Regions from separate parts of the Homo sapiens genome. Here all the other regions are reported to be linked to region 1. The links are microRNA targets in miRTarBase. Many come from high-throughput screens and were not tested one by one. Region 1 holds a microRNA gene; each other region holds the end of a gene's coding sequence. Distances are from middle to middle.

Region 1 (4,200 bases):
GGTCTTGAATGCCTGACCTCAAGTGATCCACCCGCCTCGGCCTCCCAAAGTGCTGGAATTATAGGCGTGAGCCATTGCGCCAGGCCCAAGATAGTTTTTTTTTTTTTTGAGACAGAGTCTTGCTCTGTCGCCCAGGCTGGAGTGCAGTGGCACGATCTCGGCTCACTGCAAGCTCCTCTTCTCAGGTTCACGCCATTCTCCTGCCTCAGCCTTCCGAGTAGCTGGGATTACAGGCGCCCGCCACCACGCCCGGCTAATTTTTTAAATTATTATTATTTTTAGTAGAGACGGGGTTTCACCCTGTTAGCCAGGATAGTCTCAATCTCCTGACCTCGTGATCCCCCGGCCTCGGCCTCCCAAAGTGCTGGGATTATAGGCGTGAGCCACCGCGCCTGGCCAAGATAGTTTTTGTTAACAAATTTAACAAACACCCACCAGTGTACTGGGCATTTGGGATCCTGTTTTGGAACTAATATGGGGGACAAGAGGATGGCAGGCATAGGTTTCCTGTCGCCATAGGCATTTCTCCCTTATCTCAGGAGCAGTCCTGATCACTTCCCAAAATGGGGAGCGCTTTGCCTCTGAGTCCTGAGCATTGTAAAAATGAAGGTGTGTTGTGTGGAAGCTGGACTCACTACCGCAGAGCCTCCTTGGACATTACAGCTGGAAGAAAGAGGCCCTTTTTTTTCTTTTTGAGATGGAGTCTCGCTCTGTCGCTCAGGCTGGAGTGCAGTGGCGCTGTCTGGGCTCACTGCAACCTCCGCCTCCTGGGTTCGATGCTCGTACCTCAGCCTCCTGAGTAGCTAGCATCACAAGAGCCCACTATAGAGCCCGGCTAATTTTTGTATTTTTAGTAGAGATGACATTCCGCCATGTTGGCCAGGCTGGTCTTGAACTCCTGACCTCAAGCGATCCACCTGCCTCGGCCTCCCAAAGTGCTGGGATTACAGGCATGAGCCACCGCACCCGGCCAAGAGAGATCCTTTTATGTTTGCAGTCAAGGGTGCTGAGGCTACAGAGGGAATGCAACTGCCACAATGTTACCCAGGTGTCCATGACATAGCTGGGGTAAGAATACATGTTTCCTGACCCCCAGGCCAGTGTCCCCTATCCATCAGCTGCCCCGTCGTCTCTGTCCCGCCATGCCCATCACTGTCCTTGCCACCCAAGGTGTCAGAGGGAAAGGCTATCACAACTTTTCATGGTCCTCCCCTGCTGTGATTAGACAACAGACAGTTTCTGCTTGTGGGTGCCACTGGTGACTGTCTGGCTTGAAGGGGCCTTGGGACTCCCTCTGCAGCACTGATTTTGGGGGCCCTGGGTTTGGAAGTCACTTAAATTCTGGTGACAGTCTTTGCTCTGGAACTTCTCAGTGGGATGGGAAGCTTGAGGCCCAAATCCCAGCCAGGGAAAGAGGGAGAGAAAGGACACAGCTGCTACTTATTTCCTGGGTTAGGAAGTGGCTGGGAAGGAATCTAGAGTTTTTGAGATGGATTTTATTAGGGAACAGTGTGAGGAATGAATTCTGGAGGGAATGATGGTCCAAGCCAAAAGAGGAAATGCAGGCAGCATCTTGTGCCTGAGGATGAGCCTTGCCTGGAGGAGGAGCGGGTGAGGAGGAGGAGACAGGCATTAGGGGACCAGGGGTTGTCACCCAGGAGAACCTGAACAGTCAGGGTGGAGTCTTCTGGCATCCATTCCTGTCATCTGAGAGACAGATGGGGCTTGGGATGAGGAGAGGGACATGAAGGAGTTTCTCAGGAGCAGGTGCCTGCTCTCATGCCAAAGAGAGGAGCCTCTACTTTGGTACGTACATAGTAGGCCCTGGTATCTCAGGAACAGAGACTGATGAGGTTGTCTGCATCTTGGGCCCTGCAACTCAGGAAAGCCATCAGTTTTGCAACCACAGAAAAGGTAAAAAAAAGAGTCAGGCTGTCAGTGAGGGTTTGAAGGGACTGTGGGGCTGTCTAGGGTTGTATGAGAAGTGTATGTTCTGAACACATGTGGTTGGAGCTGTATATGGTCTGTACATGTTGTAGATCTGTATGTTGTGTATTACTAAAAAAAATCCTGGTGCCTTCCTTTCCTTACTCTGTTGCCCAGGCTGGAGTTCAGTGGTGTAAGCATGACTTACTGCAGCCTCAATCTCCTGGGCTCAAGCAATCCTCCTGCTTCAGGCTCCCAAAGTCCTAGGATTACAAGTGTCGGCCACGGGCTGGGCACAGTGGCTCACGCCTGTAATCCCAGCATTTTGGGAGACAGATCTGGGTGGATCACGAGGTCAGAAGATCGAGACCATCCTGGCCAACATGGTGAAACCTCGTCTCTACTAAAAATACGAAAAAATTAGCTGTGTGTAATGGTGCGCGCCTGTAGTCCCAGCTACTCGGGAGTCTGAGGCAGGAGAATAGCTTGAACCCGGAAGGCGGAGCTTGCAGTGAGCGGAGATCGCGCCTCTGCACTCTGGCCTGGCAACAGAGCGAGACTCCATCTCAAAAACAATCAACCAACCAACCAAACAAACAAGAACAAAAAAACAAGTGTTGGCCGGGCGCGGTGGCTCACGCCTGTAATCCCAGCACTCTGGGAGGCCGAGGGGGGCGGATCATAAGGTCAGGAGATCGAGACCATCCTGGCTAACACGGTGAAACCCCGTCTCTACTAAAAATACAAAAAATTAGCCGGGCGCGGTGGCAGGCGCCTGTAGTCCCACCTACTCGGGAGGCTGAGACAGGAGAATGGCGTGAACCCCGGAGGCGGAGCTTGCAGTGAGCCGAGATTGCGCCACTGCACTCCAGCCTGGGCGACAGAGTGAGACTCTGTCTCAAAAAACAAAAAAAACAAAAAAAAACAAATGTCAGCCAGCATACCCTGTCTCCCCCAAATTTCTTAGCCTGGCATTTAAGGCTAAAGATTAACCAGACTCACCATGTATTTTCCTGCCCCTGTGCATTTTATTCATGCTTTGTTCTCTGCTTTCTCAGCCCCTGATCTTTACCAATTAAAATCCTCTTCTAGCTGCAGCTCAGATGCTACCTCTTCCAGGAAGCCTTTTTTGGTATCCTTACCCAAATGCCCTCTCTCCTCTGAATGGCAGAGCACTTTTCTCTACCTCTTTTGCAGTAGTTACATTCTCTTATGCATTCTGACTATTAAGGGCGAGGCTGTCAGTTTCCTCCACTAAATACGAAAGTCTTCGAAGGCTTATAAGTTTGTTGTATTCATTTTTGTATCCCCAATACCTAGCACAGTCCCTTTACATAGCAGGCATTTAATTCAAAATATATTTGTTAAACAAATAAATGTATGTGTTGGGTTATGGAGATAAATGAGAAACTTGTGGGGTTTTTTTGTTTGTTTTCTGAGATGGAGTCTTGCTCTGTCACCCAGGCTGGAGTGCAGTAGCGCAATATTGGCTCACTGCAACTTCCGCCTCCTGAGTTCAAGCAATTCTCCTGCCTCGGCCTCCCGAGTAGCTGGGATTACAGGTGCCTGCCACCGCACCCGGCAAATTTTTGTGTTTTTAGTAGAGACAAGGTTTCACCATGTTGTCCAGTTTGTCTCGAACTCCTGACCTCGTGATCCGCCAGCCTCGGCCTCCCAAAGTGTTGGGATTACAGGGGTGAGCCACCGTGCCCAGCCTTTTTGTTGTTGTTGTTGTTTGTTTTTGAGACAGGGTTTCACTCTGTCTCCCAGGCAGGAGTGCAGTGGAGCGATCATAGCTCACTGCAGCCTCAACCTTCTGGACTCAAGCAATTCTGCCACCCTAGTCTCCCGAGTAGCTGGGACTACAGGCACACGCCACCATGCCCAGCTAATTTTTTTTTTCTCGTAGAGATGAGGTCTTGTTATTTTGCCTAGGCTGCTCTCAAACTCCTGGGCTAAAGCGATCCTCCTGCCTCAGCCTCCCAAAGTGCTGGTATTAGAAGGATGAGCCACTGTGCCCGGTGCTAGGAAAACTTCTTGCCCTGTGCTAGGAAAACATTTTTTCCTAGTGGAAAGAAAGTTTCCCAGTGGAAAAAAAGTTTATTTGCACTAGGAGCTTACAGTTCAGTGACAGAGACATATACAAATATGAATTAATTTATTTGGGAGGCTGAGGTAGGCAGATGGCTTGGGCCCAGGAGTTCAAGACGAGGCTGGACAACATGGAGAAACCCCGTCTCTACTAAAAATATAAAAATTAGCCGGGCATTGTGG
Region 2 (4,200 bases), not on the chromosome of region 1:
AAACACGGGTTTGGGGCTGTCACTGAGCCGATGCTGACCTGTTAGGCACCTGTCCTCTGGTGGTTAGAAGAGTCCCCTTGAATGCTGCATAGCCACCCTGCTGATCTCTGCAGGCTTGATGTACACCAGCAGGGGCCCTGCATCACCTATTTGAAGCAGCATTGGTACTCAGCTGGAAAGGCAGGAAAACTCTCAGAACGTAGAGTGTGTTTTTATTCAGGCCCTGCTCACAGCACACCCTCCTAGTCTAGATGGCCAGGTTCTTTACATGTGCTTGTTTTGTTCACAGCGGGCCAATCCGAGCCTACATCCTTGCCCACAAGGATGCCATCCAGCTCTGGAGGACGCTCATGGGACCCACCAGAGTGTTCCGAGCACGCCATGTGGCCCCAGATTCTATCCGTGGGAGTTTCGGCCTCACTGACACCCGCAACACCACCCATGGTTCGGGTGAGTCCCCTGTCCATAGCCATAGGATATTTTGGGGTTAGCGGGCAGGCTGTGTGGTAGAGTTGACAGCCAGGTCCCTCCAGTGAGCTTTCTTCCATTTGTGTTTCTGGTCTTTGTAGCCATGTTGGCAGATGTGGCCTGTGGACTTTCTTTACATGCCCCAGGACTGAAGGGGCAGGCAGAGTAGAGGCTCAGGATTCTGAACCTGATTATGACTGCCTCTTGCTTCTACCATGTGAGAACCCCTTCTCTGTCTTATCTCCCCTTACAGACTCTGTGGTTTCAGCCAGCAGAGAGATTGCAGCCTTCTTCCCTGACTTCAGTGAACAGCGCTGGTATGAGGAGGAAGAGCCCCAGTTGCGCTGTGGCCCTGTGTGCTATAGCCCAGAGGGAGGTGTCCACTATGTAGCTGGAACAGGAGGCCTAGGACCAGCCTGATGCAGGTCTATGAAGACCAGTGGTAGTGCCCAGACTTCTCCTAGACATCTAGTCTAAAACATTCTCCTAGGACCAGGGAAGCCTGGCTTACAGTGCCATTTCTGCTGGGCACCACCACCTGCCTGAGGGCCTAGCTCACCACAGCACATCCTCCAGGATCTAGCCTTCTATCTACCTCTTCTCTGGAATGTTTATGGTGGTTCAGAAGAATGATGACTCCTCTTTGCTGAGAACTGTTCATCCTTCTTCAAGAAGAAGCTTGCCAGGCCGGGCACGGTGGCTCACGCCTATAATCCCAGCACTTTGGGAGGCCGAGGCAGGCGGATCACAAGGTCAGGAATTCGAGACCAGCCTGACCAACATGGTGAAACCCCATCTCTACTAAAAATACAACAATTAGCCAGGCATGGTGGTGCATGCCTGTAATCCCAGCTACTCAGAGGCTGAGGCAGGAGAATTGCTTGAACCTGGGAGGCAGAGGGTGCAGTGAGCCGAGATCGTGCCATTGCACTCCAGCCTGGGCGACATTCTGTCTCAAAAAAAAAAAAAAAGAAGCTTGTCTAATTGACTTGCCTAAAAAATGCAGTGACTCCAAACAACATTTGACCTGTCTTCCTCAATAAAAGTCAGTGTTCTCCTGAATCCTTTATGCTGCCACATTTAGGGGAAACTTTTCAGGCTTCATCATTCTGACTTCTCAGCAGCATTCAGTTATTGCTTCATTCTCCAGAAACACTCTCTTCTCTTGGATTTTCTGATCCCACACCCTTGGTTTTCTCCTTCTGTGTGTTTTTCTTCATCTCCTTTATCAGCTTATGCAAACATTTATTTTCATAAATTCTCTATTCAAGACATACTGAAAAATGCAAAGATGGTTAAGACATGATTGGGTCCTCAAGTTGCTAATTATGAATTTGGGTGGTCAGCCAGCTATAACGTGGCAGAGATGGAGAAGTGCCCTAACAGAGGTATAAAGTCCTGTGGGAGAACAGAGGAAAGAAGGTTTCCTTTGGCTGGGTGAGGAGGTGAAGGAGATAGGGTGGAAAGTCTTTTATAAAAGATATAGCTGGCTTTGGAACTAAGCCTGAAGGTCAAATAGGGTATCCATAGCAGGGGTCTGGGGCACTAGACAGTCTGTTCATTTTCAGGAATATATGGGTCAGTTTTGTATGTGTGACCTAAGAAACCTGTGACACTTCTTACAGGTCTTGACTTTTCTTTCTCAGTACATGTGTATTTCTCTTTTTGGTGGCCTTGAAACCTTTGAGTTGAAAATTGCCTTCACCATCTGCCACTTTCACTAATGGTAGACCAGGAAATTTGGACCCACTGAACATAGAGAACAACTAGAAAAGCTGTGCAAAATATAAACAGCATCTATCTGAAAGCATCAGCTGGCAATATAGAACCAAAATTCAGGACACGAAGGAAACTCAAGAGAAGTGAGCCTGGGACTTAGAGCTACTTTTCCCATAAGGGCACCTGCTGATTCTGGAAGAGGCAGCTAAGAAGCTGAGTAGAACTTTCAACAACTTCTTGTGTTAGGGAGCCAGCTTCATGAATGCTGGCAGAAAACACAGGATTACTTGGGCAGAGACTACTGCTCAGGGCACAGCAGGCAGTGTGTTAGCCTTGGTCTCCCTTGCCCTCCAAGTCCCACAGGGCAATACTGGCAGGCCCAGGAAAGTGTTACACACTGCAGGTTTGCATGACGGCTAAGGAACCACAATCTTAGGGAGATACTATCTCTGTCTTCTAAGGCCATTTGCTGTACAAAAATCCTTGAAATACCTGGGCACAGTGGCACACCTATAATCCTAGCACTTTGGGAGGCTGAGGCAGGCGGATCACCTGAGGTTGGGAGTTCCAGACCAGCCTGACCAACATGGAGAAATCCCGTCTCTACTAAAAATACAAAAATTAGCCAAGCGTGGTGGCGCGAGCCTGTAATCCAGCTACTCGGGAGGCTGAGGCAGGAGAATCGCTTGAACCCAGGAGGCGGAGGTTGTGGTGAGCCAAGATCACGCCGTTGCACTCCAGCCTGGGCAACAAGAGTGAAACTCCATCTCAAGAAAAAAAAAATCCTTGAAATAGTCTGGAACAAAATCTGTCAACATCTCAGCCCACAAAGTATCAACAAAATTGATATTTTGTTGCATTTAAAAAATTTAAATGGTGGTCAAAGCGTACAAAATCTGACAATTAAGACACCCACAAGAGACACAGAATTATCTCCCAATAAAATTGTCTCATAAAAACCTGGCTCCCACAAATATGGAAAGGGAGAAAACTAGAATAAACCCTGTGGTGTCGAATTGGAGATATCAGTGTGAACTCGTGTATTTCAGTCTATAGAGATAGATGTAAATATGTTTTTGTATGTATAGTCCTTTGCACTGATGTGAGAGCAATGACACTCCAATAGTAATGACCACACCCAGCACCCAGGTCCACCAAAAGACAAAGTGCTATGGACTGAATTATATCCCCCTAAAATTCATATGTTGAAGCCCTAACCCCCAATGTGATGATATTTGGAAATGGGACATTTGGGAGATAATTAAGTTTAGATGGCCAGGTATGGTGGCTCACGCCTGTAATCCCAGCACTTTGGGAGGCCAAGGCGGGCGGATCACAAGGTCAGGAGATCGAGACCATCCTGGCTAACACGGTGAAACCCCGTCTCTTCTAAAAATACAAAAATTAGCTGGGTGTGGTGGCACGCACCTGTAGTCCCAGCTACTTGGGAGGCTGAGGCAGAAGAATTGCTTGAACCCAGGAGGTAGAGTTTGCAGTGAGCCAAGGTAGTGCTACTGCACTCCAGCCTGGGTGAAAGAGCGAGACTCCGTCTCAAAACAAAATGAAACAAAACAAAACAAACTATTGCCTATAGCAAACCAATTGTAGCCTGGGCAACATAGTGAGACCCTGTCTCTATAAAAACTAAAAATAGGCTGGGCGCAGTGGCTCATTCCTGTAATTCCAACACTTTGGGAGGCTGAGGGGGGAGGATCACTTAAGTCCAGGAGTTTGAGACCAGCCTGGGCAACATGGTGAGACCCCTGTGTCTACAAAAATAAAAATAAAAAACTTAGCTGGGTGTGGTGGTGCATGCTTGTGTCCCAGCTACTTGGGAGGCAAAGTGGGAGGATTGCTTGAGCCTGAGAGATTGAGGCTTCAGTGCAGTTTGAGCCACTGCACACACTCCAGCCTGGGTGACAGTGAGACCCTGTCTTAAAAAAATAAGAGTATGACATGAGCATGTGAGAGCAAAAGAAAACAAGGAAGTCTGCGACCATGAAGCGAATGCTT
Region 3 (4,200 bases), 39 Mb from region 1:
GTTTGAGTTTACAAATTTTCAGAGTTTCCCTAGCTCTGGCACACACTCATGAGGTTCCTGTCTCTACTCATACTAACAAATTGCATGTGTTCACAGCAGGACGAGGGGCAGGAATCTCTGGAGGAAGAGTTGGATGTGTTGGTTTTGGATGATGAGGGGGGCCAAGTGTCTTACCCCTCCATGGTATGTCCTTCAGTCACCCCCAAGATTGTTCTTGAGGAAGGAGGCTCCTGAGTGCCAGCAACTTGTCAATCACGCTAATCTGATCAGGCCAGAGACTAAGTAGTCTCAGCCACATGGGGCTCGAGGGGTTCTGCTTTTGTGATTATTACCTCTTACGAGTCTGGGACATGCAGCTGGTGATCTGATTCTCCGTTATGTGCTGCTTTCCTTTCTCCAGATTTGCTCAACTTTTTTGGGGGGGGTCTCCTTAATCCCAACCCCATTAACATTCTCTCTTTCTCTTTTTTCTCCACAGCAGAAGATTTAGCACCACTATCTCCGTTCCATCTGGGCTTATATGTACTTTTATTTTTTGGTGGTGAAATTGACTGATGATTTTCCTTTTTCTTCGCTGGACTATTGTGCCAACTGCCAGGCTGCCTCCTGCCCTTACAGCCCTAAGTGGCTGCCTTCTTTCCATCAACTCCCAACTTCTTCCTGTGAAGTTTAATTGTCTCAACGCCTCCCCCTCCCCCATTCCCTCCATTTTTCTCCCAAGAAACCTGACTCAATTATTTGCATATTTTGAGAAACTGCTGCAGATTAGTTCTTTTTGCCAGTTTTCCCTGGAACTCCTGGCCTTTTGTGGAGGGGAGGGATGGAGAGAATAGGAATCTTCACTAGAAGCCGTGGGAAGAATTGGAAGTTACATGCTGTATATGCAATGTCCAGCAGTCTGATAAACTGACGATTCTTAATCAAGATTTTTTTCCTGATGGGGAAGGGACTTTTATTTTCTTTTAGAGAGGGGAAAGTGTGAGCTCTTCCCTTATTCCTAATGGCTATTTTTGAAGCAAAGAAGGCCAGCAACATTGGCACATGCCACCTGGCAAAGGACCCTTGAGTAAGTGAAGGTCTCCTAAAACTGGGATTAAGAAACCTTGCTCTCCTCATCTCCAAGGCAGGGACCATCAAGAACCTACAGACTCCATCTCTTCTGCAAGCCTCATGCCAACCCTGGGCTATTGCTGCTGCCCCTTAAACACAGGCTGTCCTTAACCCACCTCTCCTGCCCTGTGATATGTCTGCTGAGTTGGCCTGGCCATTTCCAAGAGGCTGTAGAAAGGGGAGAATGTCAAGGAAGACTTTTGGTAGAGAAGGAGCAGAAAGATGTGTTTTTGGGAAGAAGAAGACCTCTAGGAGGAGCTAGTAGGAATGTACATGAAGCAATTAGTCTGAAACTGGCTTCCCCACTCCCCCGTTTCTCCTTTTCCTATCCTTATAGGCCTGTCCCTTGCCTCTGCCCTGGATTGGTTGGCAAACTAAAGGACTTGATGTACATAACTCCTGTCCCTTTTCCCTTACAAGGTGGGGATTGCCCCTGGCTTTGCCTCTTCTTTGTGCCTTTGGCCTGGGGTGCATCTCCTCCCGCCCTTCCATGTGCCTTTCTTTGCCTCTGCAGTCTCATTTCTCATAATTTTGCAAATTATATTTTGTTGCTTTCTTACCTACTATTGGCCCTAAATAGCAGAAAGAAGAGAAGTGACCGAGAGAACCTCAGATTCTTCATTGAGGATTGGTATAGCCATGATTTCAGTCATAGCAAGCTTTTGCTCAACAGCATATGGGTGGGATTTTGCAAAAATCCTATTCTGATGAATCTCAAAGTAAGGCTGGTAAGAGAAGTGAGTGGTGTGACTCTTACTCCTTAGGTGCCCAGAATTTACCATCATCTCTGAAGGAGTTACAGGGAAGTGGTCTCCCCAATTCTCCCCTCCCTCCAGTATTGCCCCCTCTCACTTTAGCATATATTAATTAGCAGGTTGGGCTAGAGAAATCAGCTGCTATGCGGGTTGATTATTATTATTATTTCTAATCCTTTTCCTTATTTGCCTTCTACTCCCCTTAATCTAATCTAAAAGCTCTGTTCCATGCAACTGGAGTTCCTTATCCCTCTCTTCCCCTTCCCTTATATATTGAGGCTATGGGGTAGGAGAAAAGTGCACAACCCACCACCCCCTTTACTCGTGCATTAAAATTTCTTATTTACCCTTTTCCCCCTTCCCATTTCTTCCCACTTTCATCTACCTTTTCTGGCAAAAAGGAGCCTTTTGCTCTCTGTGACCCTAAGAGCACACTGCACAGGGAAAATTGCCCCATCCAGACCTGGCTCCACTCTTGATCTCTCTTGTCCTCTTCTGCTCTTTTCCTGGTGCTCTTTTTTCTCGGTGGGGTGTGGGTAATAGAACAGCCGTGGGCTTTTGGGGACCTTTAACTTTTTTTTCTCTCTTTTGTTTATAAAAAACACTAAACATTCAATTCCAGAGAACCAAAAATCCCACCTTCCCACCGAACACTACTAAGGGGCTTGTGTTCTGCTCCATACCTTTTCTCTTTTCTTTCTGTCTTGTTAATGCTTTTAAAAACAAATGAGTTTTTTATATAAATAAAGTTTTTAAAGTGTGTATGTGGGGGGTCTGTGTCATTTCTTCACTTCAAGCTGTTATTTCTTCCCTGCTTTGCATCTTTGTTACTTCCTTATGTATCAGTGTCCTTTCCAGAGCAACCAGAAGGAGGTTATACCAGGATTTATTTTGAGCTCAGCCCCAACTCTTTATCAAGCAACATTCTTGTTAACTATATGTGAAACATTTTTTCTTCTGAAGATTCTTAAAAATTGAATGTGGCTGAAGTTGAACATGGGAGCTTATTGCTAATTTAGAGATAGGAAACTGAAGCATAAAGAATTAATGACTTACTTTAATTACTGGAATTCTTCTGCAACATTTGACAAAACTAACCTTGAATAAGGCCCACTGTAATACGTAGCTCTCTTAAATATAACACTTAGGACTAGAAGATTAGAAACTACCAATCCCAACTACGTAATAGGAAAATGTAGGATCAAAAGGCCCATGTATATAAGTACTGACCACTGGGCCATAATGTTGCTTCTCAGGCTATATGCAGTCCTTTAGTCAGAAGTCAATAGGCCTATTTATTAATATTTTACAGACCATATTACCTGGATTACCAGGGACTATCTTTGCTGCAGAGATCAAGGGTTAAGATCTATGGGAAGATACTTATTTTTCTGAGGTCCTTATGTCCTGTCATATAATTAAAGACTCAAGAGAATTTATGTGAAATGCTTTCTGTATGCCCAAATCTTTAGATTAAAATTATATAGCTGCTCCTGATGATGGTCCTGTCTTGTTTTATTGAACTAGGACTTGGGTATGAAAACTTTCATGGGCTAGTGAGACCAGGAAATCAACTAGCTTTTAAAGCTTGATTTGTGTCTAACAATTGTAGTGTTAGATTAGAGGTTGAAGTACAAAGCCAAAAAGCTATTAAGAGTTTACTTTCCAAAGAGTTTTGATAGCCCTGCTTGAGATGATTTTTATCTAAATAGAAAAGCCTGGCTGCTTGTCAGCAACACTTTATTTCCCTGTTATGTTCTTATCCTTTGGCATTGAGCTAGATACAAACCCTACTCTTCTCTCTTCCTTCTGGATTGGTCCATTTGTTTATCTCATTCAATAAATATTTGCCAAGCACCTCCTATATGCTAAGCGTTGTGTCAAGGTTAGGTTTAGATTAGAGAGTGAAACAGATGGATCTTTTCTCATAGATTGCAATCCATGAGAATCCTCTATAGCTAAGATCTATGATCAGACGAGATCGTGTGCGTTCAGGGTGATATGGCCATAGACAAGATCTATGATCTTAAAAACACTTCTCTCTGTGCCATATCTAAATACAATGAGATGTTACACAGAATGATGTGTAAAGGCCCTATCTCACAAGTTTCTTGACACTGATGTACTTTGTGACAGAGGTCAAAGCTGGGACCTCACTTGGCCACTTTTTTTTTTTTAGACAGAGTCTTGCTCTGTCACTCAGGGGCACAATCTCGGCTCACTGCAACCTCAGCCTCCTGGGTTCAAGCGATTCTTCTGCCTCAGCCTCCCGAGTAGCTGGGATTACAGGTGTGTACCACCACGCCTGGCTAATTTTGTATTTTTAGTAGAGACA

What was found. The annotated mature microRNA hsa-miR-3159 reads UAGGAUUACAAGUGUCGGCCAC and lies in region 1 at 2,191-2,212, shown strand. An mRNA with a match to its seed (bases 2 to 7 or 8) in the 3' UTR can be bound and repressed. Matches are read on the target gene's strand: a 7mer-m8 pairs with bases 2 to 8, a 7mer-A1 pairs with bases 2 to 7 and ends in A, and an 8mer does both.
Region 2: the mRNA of NME6 is a reported target of hsa-miR-3159. Seed matches in the 3' UTR shown: 8mer at 2,701-2,708.
Region 3: miRTarBase lists CTNND1 as a target of hsa-miR-3159. Seed matches in the 3' UTR shown: 7mer-A1 at 1,806-1,812 and 7mer-m8 at 2,036-2,042.

The regions. Positions count from the first base shown.
Region 1 is chr11:18,385,606-18,389,805 of GRCh38, forward strand. It overlaps MIR3159 (microRNA 3159), which reads left to right and starts at 2,182; the gene lies at 2,182-2,255.
Region 2 is chr3:48,291,325-48,295,524 of GRCh38, reverse strand. It overlaps NME6 (NME/NM23 nucleoside diphosphate kinase 6), which reads left to right. Exons shown (of 6, transcript NM_001308426.2): 5 at 290-450; 6 at 722-3,208. The coding sequence ends at 888. It also overlaps the pseudogene FCF1P2. Among named protein-coding and RNA genes, the nearest start is that of NME6, 7.9 kb to the left of the region's middle.
Region 3 is chr11:57,815,819-57,820,018 of GRCh38, forward strand. CTNND1 (catenin delta 1) reads left to right here. Exons shown (of 21, transcript NM_001085458.2): 20 at 97-183; 21 at 479-3,722. The coding sequence ends at 490. It overlaps TMX2-CTNND1 (TMX2-CTNND1 readthrough (NMD candidate)), which reads left to right. Exons shown (of 21, transcript NR_037646.1): 21 at 479-3,362. Among named protein-coding and RNA genes, the nearest start is that of CTNND1, 56 kb to the left of the region's middle.